Linked DNA regions of Homo sapiens. The protein of the gene in region 1 purifies or fractionates together with the protein of each later gene. This does not show direct contact. Each region holds a gene or a part of one and is shown in the gene's direction. Other genes may lie near its edges. The genes, in order: COA6, MSRB2 and ISOC2.

Region 1 (3,652 bases):
CATCCCCTGAGGCCCCAACCTCTCTCCAGGTCACTGCGTCCTAGTCACCGCTAACATGAATTGAGTACATCCTCTACACTCTACACTCTACACACTTGAAATGTGTCATCTATCTTATTTATCCCTCGTGGAACTCTCTTAGCGGTTTTATAGGTAAGGGCACATTGACATGAAGTCACCTGTAGTAACAGAGCCTGGATTTGAACTCAGTAGTCTGATTCCAGACCCCACATACTTCTTCCTATGCCTACCATGCAAGAAAAGGATCCATGAAAATAGCTTGCACAAGTCTCATGTAGTTCTAGAAACTGAGTTATCATTCAGGTCTACTTGAATACAAAAGCCCTGTCTCCTTGGGTCTCTTTACGGTTCTCTCACCCAGTTCCTTCATTCGCGTCTAGCAGCCGCTGCTCTTTGGAATGCCTTGCTGTGAGTCTTAAATGCCCGTGTTCATTAGAGCTCCCTTCTCTGCTACTCACTCGACCAAGGCAATCCTGTTTACAGCCATGGCTTGAAGTCCCAGCTTATGTGTTGATGCCTATCTTAGCCCAGGCTGTCATAACAAAATACCTTAGAGAAATTTATTTCTCATAGTGTTGGAGGCTGGAGGTCCGAGATCAGCATGCCAGCATGGTCAGTTTGTGATGAGGGCCCTCATCCTGGCTTGTAGACAGCTACCTTCTTGCTGTGTTGCCGAGAGAGAGAGAGAGAGAGAGAGAGAGAGAGAGAGAGAGAGATCCAGTCTCTGTCTCCTCTTTTTTTGTTTTTTTTGTTGTTGTTGAGACAGAGTCTCACTCTGTCACCCAGGCTGGAGTGCAGTGGTGTGATCTCAGCTCACTGCAACCTCTGCTGCCCAGGTTCAAGCAGTTCTCCTGCCTCAGCCTCCTGAGTAGCTGGGATTACAAGCGCCCGCCACCACACCCAGTTACTTTTTGTAGTTTTAGTAGAGATGGGGTTTCACCATCTTGGCCAGGCTGGTCTTGAACTCCTGACCTCTTGTTCCACCCGCCTCAGCCTCCCAAAGTGCTGGGATTACAGGCATGAGCCACTGCACCCGGCTCTTCCTCTTCTTATAAGGACATTAATCCCATCAGGTTAGCAGGGCCCACACTCATGACCTGCACCCAGTAGGCCTCTCCTCCCATGCTTCCAGCTTCAGTGAAAGACACCAGCATCAACTTAGGACCCGGGACCTGCGTGTCACCCTCGACTGAATTATTGGAGTGTTCTCAGGAGGGAGACTAGGTAAGTTAGGGCTGTGAGCTCAGCTGCTGTCCAGCTTCACTCTGATCCTTCTGGAAGCTCTGGAGTGTAAATTGCACCATATTTCATGGCTTTTGTGCCTGCCAGTCATTGGCATTGGCTGAGGGGCAGGTCTCTGGAGAAGGGGGCAGCCATCTGCTGTTAGCCACTGCCCAGCACAGCGGGGAGTGCGTGCATGGGTCTGCAGAGGGAATCTGGACAGAGGCCCAATAGTGGCCATTACCTCACCTGTCCAGATGCAGGCAGCATGAAGCTACCACAGCACCCCCACATGGGGTGTGTACCTATAAAACTCACCCGTAGAACCGCAGAGCTGAGTGCAAGCTCTCTGTAACCAGTCTTGCTGCCAGGGGGTGAAGGAGAGGAATGACCGTGTTCATCATCAGTTAAAGCACTTGTGTTGTCTGGGGAAGGAGTATGACAGTTAATGGATCTAGAGCGGAGACTCAGTGTTCCCCTTCTGACAAGAAAAGTACATTCACGTGTTTTGTAAAAAGCGTATTTATTAAAGTTCAAGAACACATAACCTGCCCATTTTAATGGAATGATAGAGAAAAAAAATCACCCAAATATAGATGATGGCCCTACTTCAGCTCCATGGTCATTTTTTTGGTGCATATCCTGTTCATTTAGTCATTCCACAAATATCTATTGAGCACCTCCTATGTGCCATAGGAAAATACAGCAAGGAAAAATAGACAAAGTGCTCAGCCCTCATGTAGCATACATTCTAGTATGGGGAGAGAGACAAGTAGTAGAATTAAAAGGATGTTATATGGTGATAAGTGATAGGATGAAAAATCAAACAAGGGTACAGGTTTAAGTAGGATGGTCAAGAAAGGTTTTATTTATACAGTAACTGTTTTCACAAAGTTATGAAAAAAGTTAGGGAACAGATAGGCAGATACCTGGTGAAGACGATTCCAGGCAGAGAGAATGAAACAGCCAGAAACCTGCACTGATGGGCCAGGCGCAGTTGCTCATGCCTGTAATCCCAGCACTTTGGGAGGCCGAGGTGGGCGGATCACCTGAGGTCAGGATTTGAGACCAGCCTGGCCAACATGGCAAAACCCAGTCTCTACTAAAAATACAAAAATTAGCTGGGTGTGATGGTGGGCACCTGTAATCCCAACTATTTGGGAGGCTGAGGCAGGAGAATTGCTTGAACCCGGGAGGTGGAGTTTCCAGTAAGCTGAGATTATGCCACTGCACTCCAGCCTGGGTGAGTACAAGACTCTGGTTTTTTTTTCTTTTTGAAAAAAACAAAACAAACAAAAAAAGCAACAAAAACCTGCACCGATGTGTTTAAGGGACAGTAAGAAGAAAATAGCATAAGTTAGAGCCAAGAGACGGGAGGCCAGGGAGGTACTTTTTTAATTTTTTTTTTTTTTTTTTTTTCCAGACAGTCTCACTCTGTTGCCCAGGCTGGAGTGCAGTGGTGTGATCTTTGCCATGTTGCCCAGGCTGGTCTTGAACTCCTGGACTCAAGCGATCTGCCCATCTCAGCCTCCCAAAGAGCTGGGATTATAGGTGTGAGCCACTGTGCCCGGCCATGGTTGGTGCTTTTACTCTTAGTAATACAGGAAGCTATTGGAGAGCTTTGGGTTTAGGAGTAAGGAGGGAAGTGAGGCCATGAGAGGGATGACAATCAGTAGAAAGGTGGTGGGACTGGTTGGCTGTTGGCATTAAGTCCAAGAGGGAATGTTCAGAGGTAGGGGTTGGAGAATGGGATTCTCACAATTGGAATTATGGAAGGGTTCTGTTTGTTATGAGGATAAGATATAAGCTTTGATCCTGGGAGTAAGGTAGGTTGGAGGATGAGATCATTGAAGAGGTCAAGGAACAGAGGCCATGGTATTGAAAAGATCAGTATGTGGACATTGAAATTACCCGCGAGTTTTGACCTGAGTACCCACGAGTTGTGACCTGATTATTGTTGGAAAAAATGATGGTGTATTAGTCCGTTTTCATACTGCTATAAAGAACTGCCTGAGACTGGTTAATTTACAAAGGAAAGAGGTTTAATTGACTCACAGTTCAGCATGGCTGGGGAGGCCTCAGGAAACTTACAATCATGGTGGAAGGCAAGGGGGAAGCAAGGCACCTTCTTCACAAGGCGGCAGGAAGGAGAAGTGCCAAACAAAGGGGGAAGAGCCCCTTATAAAACCATCTGATCTTATGAGAACTCACTTACTGTCACAAGAACAGCGTGGGAGAAACTACCCCGGTGATTCAGTTACCTTCACCTGGTCTCTCCCTTGACAAGTGGCGATTATGGGGATTACAATTCAAGATGAGATTTGGGTGGGGACACAAAGCCTAACCATATCAGATGGTGACCTGCAAAGTTGTAGATGACTGTAACAAAGAAGGGAAGCAGGTAGTATAG
Region 2 (3,652 bases), on another chromosome or scaffold:
AGTTAGTAATGATGTTTTTGTTGTTTTGTTTTGTTTTTTGAGATGGAGTCTCGCTCTGTCGCCCAGGCTGGAGTGCAGTGGCGCGATCTCGGCTCACTGCAACCTCTGCCTTCCAGGTTGAAGCGATTCTCCTGCCTCCTGAGTAGCTGGGATTACAGGCGTGTGCCACCATGCCTGGCTAATTTTTTGTATTATTAGTAGAGACGGGGTTTCACCATGTTAGCCAGGATGGTCTTGATCTCCTGACCTCAGGTGATCCACCCGCTTTGGCCTCCCAAAGTGCTGGGATTACAGGCGTGAGCCAGCGCACCCGGGCGTAATGATGTGTTCTTAAGCAATAGATCCCTCTTAGGGCTGTATACATGAATGCGCTTTTGATCCTGAGGAATTCTGGAGGATATATTCTAATTAATGAGAACATACAAATGCAGACTATATTCCTGAGACTTCTTCCTGTTCAAGAGGAGTTTTAGAAATATATTCTGGTTTTGCCTCTCATTTTCCTTCTCTTTCTGTCTCTGGTCTCCAGTCTCTATAGTAGGAAGCAGAGGTACAGAAAAAATAATTCCTTCAAATGCTTGTGTGGAGTGAAAGTGAAGGGAAAGTTGGTCAACCAAAACTAAGTAGTTCTTTTAACAAGTAAATGCAGGGCTCACTCCTTTGAGCTCCCTGCTCCAGCTTGGCTGCTTCCTGCCTGGGACTTCCCTTCATGCTGAGCTGGCCTCCTGGGATCTGCTCAGCCCCACTAATACTAATTGAAATTCCACTTATTTTTGGATCCCAGATTTCTCCTGAAACCTTCTCTGATAGCACACACCATGGGTTTTTTTTTAATCTGCTTCAAATTCCTATTAATTTATCAGTATCACACAATTTAGGACCTAATTATTCTCCTATTGGATCAAGTATTTTATTTAGTTAAGGAGATAAACTTGATTAGCTTTCGAGTCCCTTGGCCATCTTATGCTTCTTGGACAAGGCTCATGGAAGTTGTTATGGGATGAATTGTGTCTCCCAAAAAGACATGTTGAAGTCTTAATCCCTGTAAGCTGGGAATGTGACCTTATTTGGAAATAGGGTGGCTGCAGGTATAATTAGTTTAGATAAGATCATATTGGAGTAGGGTCAGCCCTAATTCCAAAATCACTGCTGTCCTTATAAGAAGAAGAGAAGCCCAGACAGAGAGGAGACAGCCATGTGAAAACGGAAGCAGAGATTGGTGATCCGCAGCTACAAACCGAAGACTGCCTACCTTAGAAGGTAGGAAGAGGCAAGGAGGGATTCCCTAGATGCTTCAGAGCCCTGTGGACACCTTGACTTTGGACTTCTATCTTCAAGATTGTGAGAGAGTACCACCCATTTTGTGGTACTTTGTTACAGCCACCTTGGAAACTAATACTTAGATGCTCCATAAGTACGTATTGATTGGTTGATTAATAATATCCATCCTGCTGCTTAGACATCATAGCAATGTTGGGACTATCAGAAGCTGTGGTTACGGGCTGAACGTGGTGACTCATGCCTGTAATCCCAGCACTTTGGGAGGCCAAGGCGGGTGGATCACTGCAGGTCAGGAGTTCGAGACCAGCCTGACCAGTATAGCAAAATCCTGTCTCTACTAAAAATACAAAAACTAGTTGGGCGTGGTAGCACATGCCTGTAATCCCAGCTACTAAGGAGGCTGAGGTAGGAGAATTGCTTGAACCCAGGAGGTAGAGGTTTCATTGAGCTGAGATTGAGCCACTGCACTCCAGCCTGAGTGACAGAGTGAGACTCCATCTCAAAAAAAAAAAAAAAAAAAGCTGTGATTATGAAATCACTGTGAAAATGTGAGGGAAGTGGCTGCAACTTCTTGAGCACTTACATGCCAGACACTGGGCTCTAGTACTTTGCAAACAATCCTCACCCTCCAATAAGGAGCTATTAAGACCCTCACTTAACAGATGTGAAAACTGAGGCTTAAAGAATTTAACTAACTTGTTCCAGGTCACTTGTCTAGTAAGTGATAGTGCAGGGATTTGGGCTCCACTGCACTCTTCTTGAGAGTGGGAAGCACCCCAGCAATGAAGGAGCCCTCTGGGCACGCGGCAGGTGCCATGCCCAGGCTCTTCATGTGCATCGTTTCGTCAGACCTCTCGGCAGCTCCCCGTAGTGTTATTATCATTCTCATTTCACGTGAGGAAACTGAGAGCTAGGAAGATGAAATAACTTGTCCAGGGTTCTGCAGCTTACAGGTAGCCAGCCAAAATATGAACCCACAGTTTTGGACTCCAGAGCCCACATTCTTCACTAGCTGAGCTTCCATTAAGCCACACGGGCAGCTCCGTTGACATAGGTGCCATCGCCTTTTGGTGCCTGCTTTCCTTATTACAGGTGTAAGTTTCCCAGAAGACATAACCAGCCTCTGAGAGTGATCCCAGCCAGTGTAACTCATGAGTTCCCTTTCCAGAGCCTTGTTCCCAGCCTCATCCACCAGACTTAGCGTCATTCTCCTCATCATCCTATAATTGTTGGAATGAGTTTGGTGCACAGTTTTGGAGAGCTTCTGCCTCTCCAAATCAGACACCTTTAATCAAAGGTGTCTGGGTCAAGAACACTTTCCAGAATGTGTTGTCACACTCCTAGGGACTCCAGACTCTCTTTCCTTAACTCGGAATGAAGTGACATTGCCCATCACTGCCACTTCCTCTCCTCCTTCTCCCTTTCTTCTTCTACATGAGCCTATTTGGAATGTGTTTATTAAAATCTATTGTGGGATCACATATTTCATGATCACAAATCTTCTTAAAATAAGAGGAAACAGAGCCTGATACTAGTTCACCTTTTACGTAATATCCTGATGTCGTATGTACCATGAGTAACTAAGTAATATTGTTAAAAACCTTCTGTATGCCCCATTCCCTCAAAGGAATAGAAATTCTTCTAAGAGGTTAGGGTTGTCAGTTATCACCAAGTGCCTGTGCTGTTGGTTTGGGACCTGTAGAACTTCCAGAAATCAAGGAAAACCAAAGCAAATAAAACGAAACAAAGTAAAAATCCCTTAGAGTATATGATTCAGAATGGTTTTAGTTCTTCAAGGGCAAACCTTACAATCTGCTAATCACTTAAATATGTATATTGGAATTTCTGATTGGCTTTAATATTTTGGTTCCCAGTCTTAACTTATATATGTTAGGCCTCTCATATTACTTGGTAAAAATCTCCCGATTCTGCTAATTGCATCAATAAAGGTTTATTGTTTCCCATAAAATGCTTTAATGAGTTTTTATTAGCCTTAGTTTCATTTATTTAAAAAATTTTATTGTATTCATAATTCTCAATCAAAATACCTTTAATGATCACTAGTTGATATATAATGTTGAGGATGGAAAGACTGGGATTAAAAGATACTTAATGATGTTTTTCCCTGAGCAGAGTGGCCAGATGAATGTTTTTGAACCCCTGGAGGAGGGTTGCAAAGAATCCGACCTGAATATGCAGACATTTCTAGTTGGACCCACAACTGCTCACATTCCATAGATTTCTGGTATTAATAATAAAAAAATATTAAAAAATAGCTACCAACTCAAGTGCCATGTGTCAGGTACTATGCTAAGCACACACACAGAAAGTGAGGTGATAATGCCATTGCTATTGTTAGCTTAAAACAATC
Region 3 (3,231 bases), on another chromosome or scaffold:
TTAGCCAGGCATGGTGGCACAAGCCTGTAATCCCAGCTACTTGGGAGACTGAGGCAGGAGAATCCTTGAACCTGGGAGGCAGAGCTTGCAGTGAGCCAAGATCGCGCCACTACACTCCAGCCTGGGTGACAGAGCAAGACTCCATCTCAAAAAAAAAAAAAAGAAAAGAAAATAGCAGCTTCTTGTTGAGTGCCCTGCCTCCCTCAGCTTCCCAGAACACCTTCTGTCTTGCCTCCAATGAGCCTCCAGGGTCTCCCATTTCCCTGGTGAATTAATGAATAAATGAGTTAAGTACAAACAAATTGTACACACAGACGGGGAGAGAGCTGCAGACAAAAGCCCAGCCCAAACCCTCACTTGTGCAGCAAACTCGGAGACCCAAAAGCACAAGCCTCCCAGGGACGTAGGCCAAGACGTGCTGATTCAGGGCCCCTGCGGTGTAGACGCTCTGACAGCGTAGACGCTCTGACCGAGTGGAAGTCAGGTGTGCCCTGTATGGCTGCAGGACTTAGGGCAGGTTAACGGGCCCTCTGGGTCGAGGTTTCCTCCCCTGCAAAAGAATTGCTGGCCAGGTGGCTTCACCAGCCTGTCCTTTTTTTCTTTCTCTTCTTTTCTTTCTTTTCTTTTTTTTTTTTAATTGTGGTAAAATGCACTTAACATAAAACTTACCCTTTCAGCCATTTGAAAATGCAGTGGAGTGGCATTCATAGTCATGCTGTTCTGCAGCCGCCACCACCAAGTCCCAGAGCATTTTCACCATCCCAAACTGAAAACTACACCCCCCAGCAGTCAACCTGAATTCCTCCCGGCCACAGCCCCTGGCAGCCAATCATCTGCTTTCTTTCTCTTTTTTTTTTTTTTTTGAGATGGAGTTTTGCTCTTATTGTCCAGGCTGGACTGGCAGTGGTGCTATCTCTGCTCACTGCAACCTCCGCCTCCCAGGTTCAAGTGATTCTCCTGCCTCAGCCTCCCAAGTAGCTGGGACAACAGGTGCGTGCCACCGTGCCTGGCTGATTTTTGGTATTTTTAGTAGATATGGGGTTTCACCATGTTGGCCAGGCTGGTCTCAAACCCCTGGCCTCAGATGATCCGCCCGCCTCGGCCTCCCAAAGTCCTGGGATTACAGGCGTGTGCCACCAAGCCCAGTCTCTTTTTTTTTTGAGACAGAGTCTTGCTCAGTCACCCAGGCTGGAGTGCAGTGGTGTGATCTCGGCTCACTACAACCTCTGCCTCCTGGGCTTCAAGCGATTCTCCTGCCTCAGCCTCCCGAGCAGCTGGGTTACAGGCACCCGCCACTGCCTGGCTAATTTTTGTATTTTTAGTAGAGACAGGGTTTCGCCATGTTAGCCAGGCTGGTCTTGAACTGACCTCAGCTGATCCGCCCACCTCAGCCTCCCAAAGTGCTGGGATTATAGGCGTGAGCCACTGCGCCCGGCCCCATCTGCTTTCTGTCTGTGGATTTGCCTGTTCTGGGCATTTCAGGAAAACGGGATCGCACGCTCCGTGGTCTTTGTGTTGAGATCTATCCAGGTTGTGGCCTGTGCAGGGTCCCCCTTCTTTCCTATGGCTGAAGAATATGGCCTCAGTTTCCTCTTGGAGCAGGGTGAGGATCAGGGTGGACCCTTCATTCAGGAGGCCCTGGGGAGTGGGCTGGCCCAACACAGGAGGACGCCCAGCAGAGCCTCCGTTTTGGGGCTGATGGTAACCAGGGCTGACAGTAACCGGGGCTGATGTAACCGGGATCTGATAGTAACCGGGGCTGATGGTGACCAGGGCGGATGGTGACTGGGGTGGATGGTAACCAGGGCAGATGGTAACTGAGGCTGATGGTAACCGGGACTGATAGTAACTGGGGTGGATGGTAACCGGGGCGGATGGTAACCGGGATCATGAAGCACTCCTTGACGTTGTGCACAGTCCTCAGCAAGGAGAACACAGGGACCAGGAGAGGGACACCCGGAGCCACGTGTGGATGTGGCCCAGAAGGCTTCCCAAGGAAGTCACCTCCCTGCCGAATAGGACAGAAATAAGAAAGAAGCCCATTCTAGGCCCGGGGAACAGCAGACACAGAGACCTTGAGGTGGGAAGAAGGTTGGCAAGGTGCCCCGGGCCCTGCCAGGCTCTGAGTGTGAGGACCTGGACGCCAGCTGGAGACACTGAGAGGAGCCCTCGGGCCTGACCCACCGTCCCTCTGCCCACCCCCAGAAAATGGCGGCTGCCAGGCCCAGCCTGGGCCGAGTCCTCCCAGGATCCTCTGTCCTGTTCCTGTGTGACATGCAGGAGAAGTTCCGCCACAACATCGCCTACTTCCCACAGATCGTCTCAGTGGCTGCCCGCATGCTCAAGGTATGACCTCAGCCCCCCACCCTCAGACCCAGGATCCAGGCTCAGCCCTCCACCCTCAGACCCAGGATCCAGGCTCAGCCCTCCACCCTCAGACCCAGGATCCAGGCTCAGCCCTCCACCCTCAGACCCAGGATCCAGGCTCAGCCCTCCACCCTCAGATCCAGGATCCAGGCTCAGCCCTCCACCCTCAGACCCAGGATCCAGGCTCAGCCCTCCACCCTCAGACCCAGGCGTCCAGGCCCAACTCCTCTTCCTTCAGACCCAGGGATCCAGGCCCACTTCCTCTTCCCTCAGACGCAGGAGTCCAGGCCCAGCTCCTCCTCCCTCAGACTCAGGAGTCCAGGCATAGCCCCTCCTCCCTCACACCCAGGAGTCCAGACCCCCAGCCCCTCCTCCCTCAGACCCAGGAGTCCAGGCCCAGCCCCTCCTCCCTCAGACCCAGGAGTCCAGGCCCAGCCCCTCCTCCCTCAGACCCTGACCTTTCTTCCCCATCACTGGCACAGGTGGCCCGGCTGCTTGAGGTGCCAGTCATGCTGACGGAGCAGTACCCACAAGGCCTGGGCCCCACGGTGCCCGAGCTGGGGACTGAGGGCCTTCGGCCGCTGGCCAAGACCTGCTTCAGCATGGTGCCTGCCCTGCAGCAGGAGCTGGACAGTCGGCCCCAGCTGCGCTCTGTGCTGCTCTGTGGCATTGAGGCACAGGCCTGCATCTTGGTGAGATGCTGACTGACCCCAGGGGTCCCTCGTTCTAACCTGGGACCCCCATCCTAAATAGAACCTCCTTCCCTGACCAGAAACCTCCACTTCCCTGCAGGACCCCCATCCTGACCTGGGCCCTCTCTCCTCACCTGTGGGCCCCATCCTATCTTGGATCCCCTCCTGACCT

The links.
Region 2: the proteins of COA6 (region 1) and MSRB2 fractionate together in Homo sapiens (co-fractionation; one large-scale study listed by BioGRID). This does not show direct contact.
Region 3: the proteins of COA6 (region 1) and ISOC2 fractionate together in Homo sapiens (co-fractionation; one large-scale study listed by BioGRID). This does not show direct contact.

The regions. Positions count from the first base shown.
Region 1 is NC_000001.11:234,376,365-234,380,016, forward strand, and holds part of COA6 (cytochrome c oxidase assembly factor 6 homolog), read left to right. Parts: intron 1-3,652. UniProt on the Homo sapiens protein: Involved in the maturation of the mitochondrial respiratory chain complex IV subunit MT-CO2/COX2. Thereby, may regulate early steps of complex IV assembly.
Region 2 is NC_000010.11:23,112,568-23,116,219, forward strand, and holds part of MSRB2 (methionine-R-sulfoxide reductase B2, mitochondrial precursor), read left to right. Parts: intron 1-3,652. UniProt on the Homo sapiens protein: Methionine-sulfoxide reductase that specifically reduces methionine (R)-sulfoxide back to methionine.
Region 3 is NC_000019.10:55,455,464-55,458,694, reverse strand, and holds part of ISOC2 (isochorismatase domain-containing protein 2), read left to right. Parts: intron 1-2,205; 5' UTR 2,206-2,208; coding exon 2,209-2,346; intron 2,347-2,849; coding exon 2,850-3,059; intron 3,060-3,231.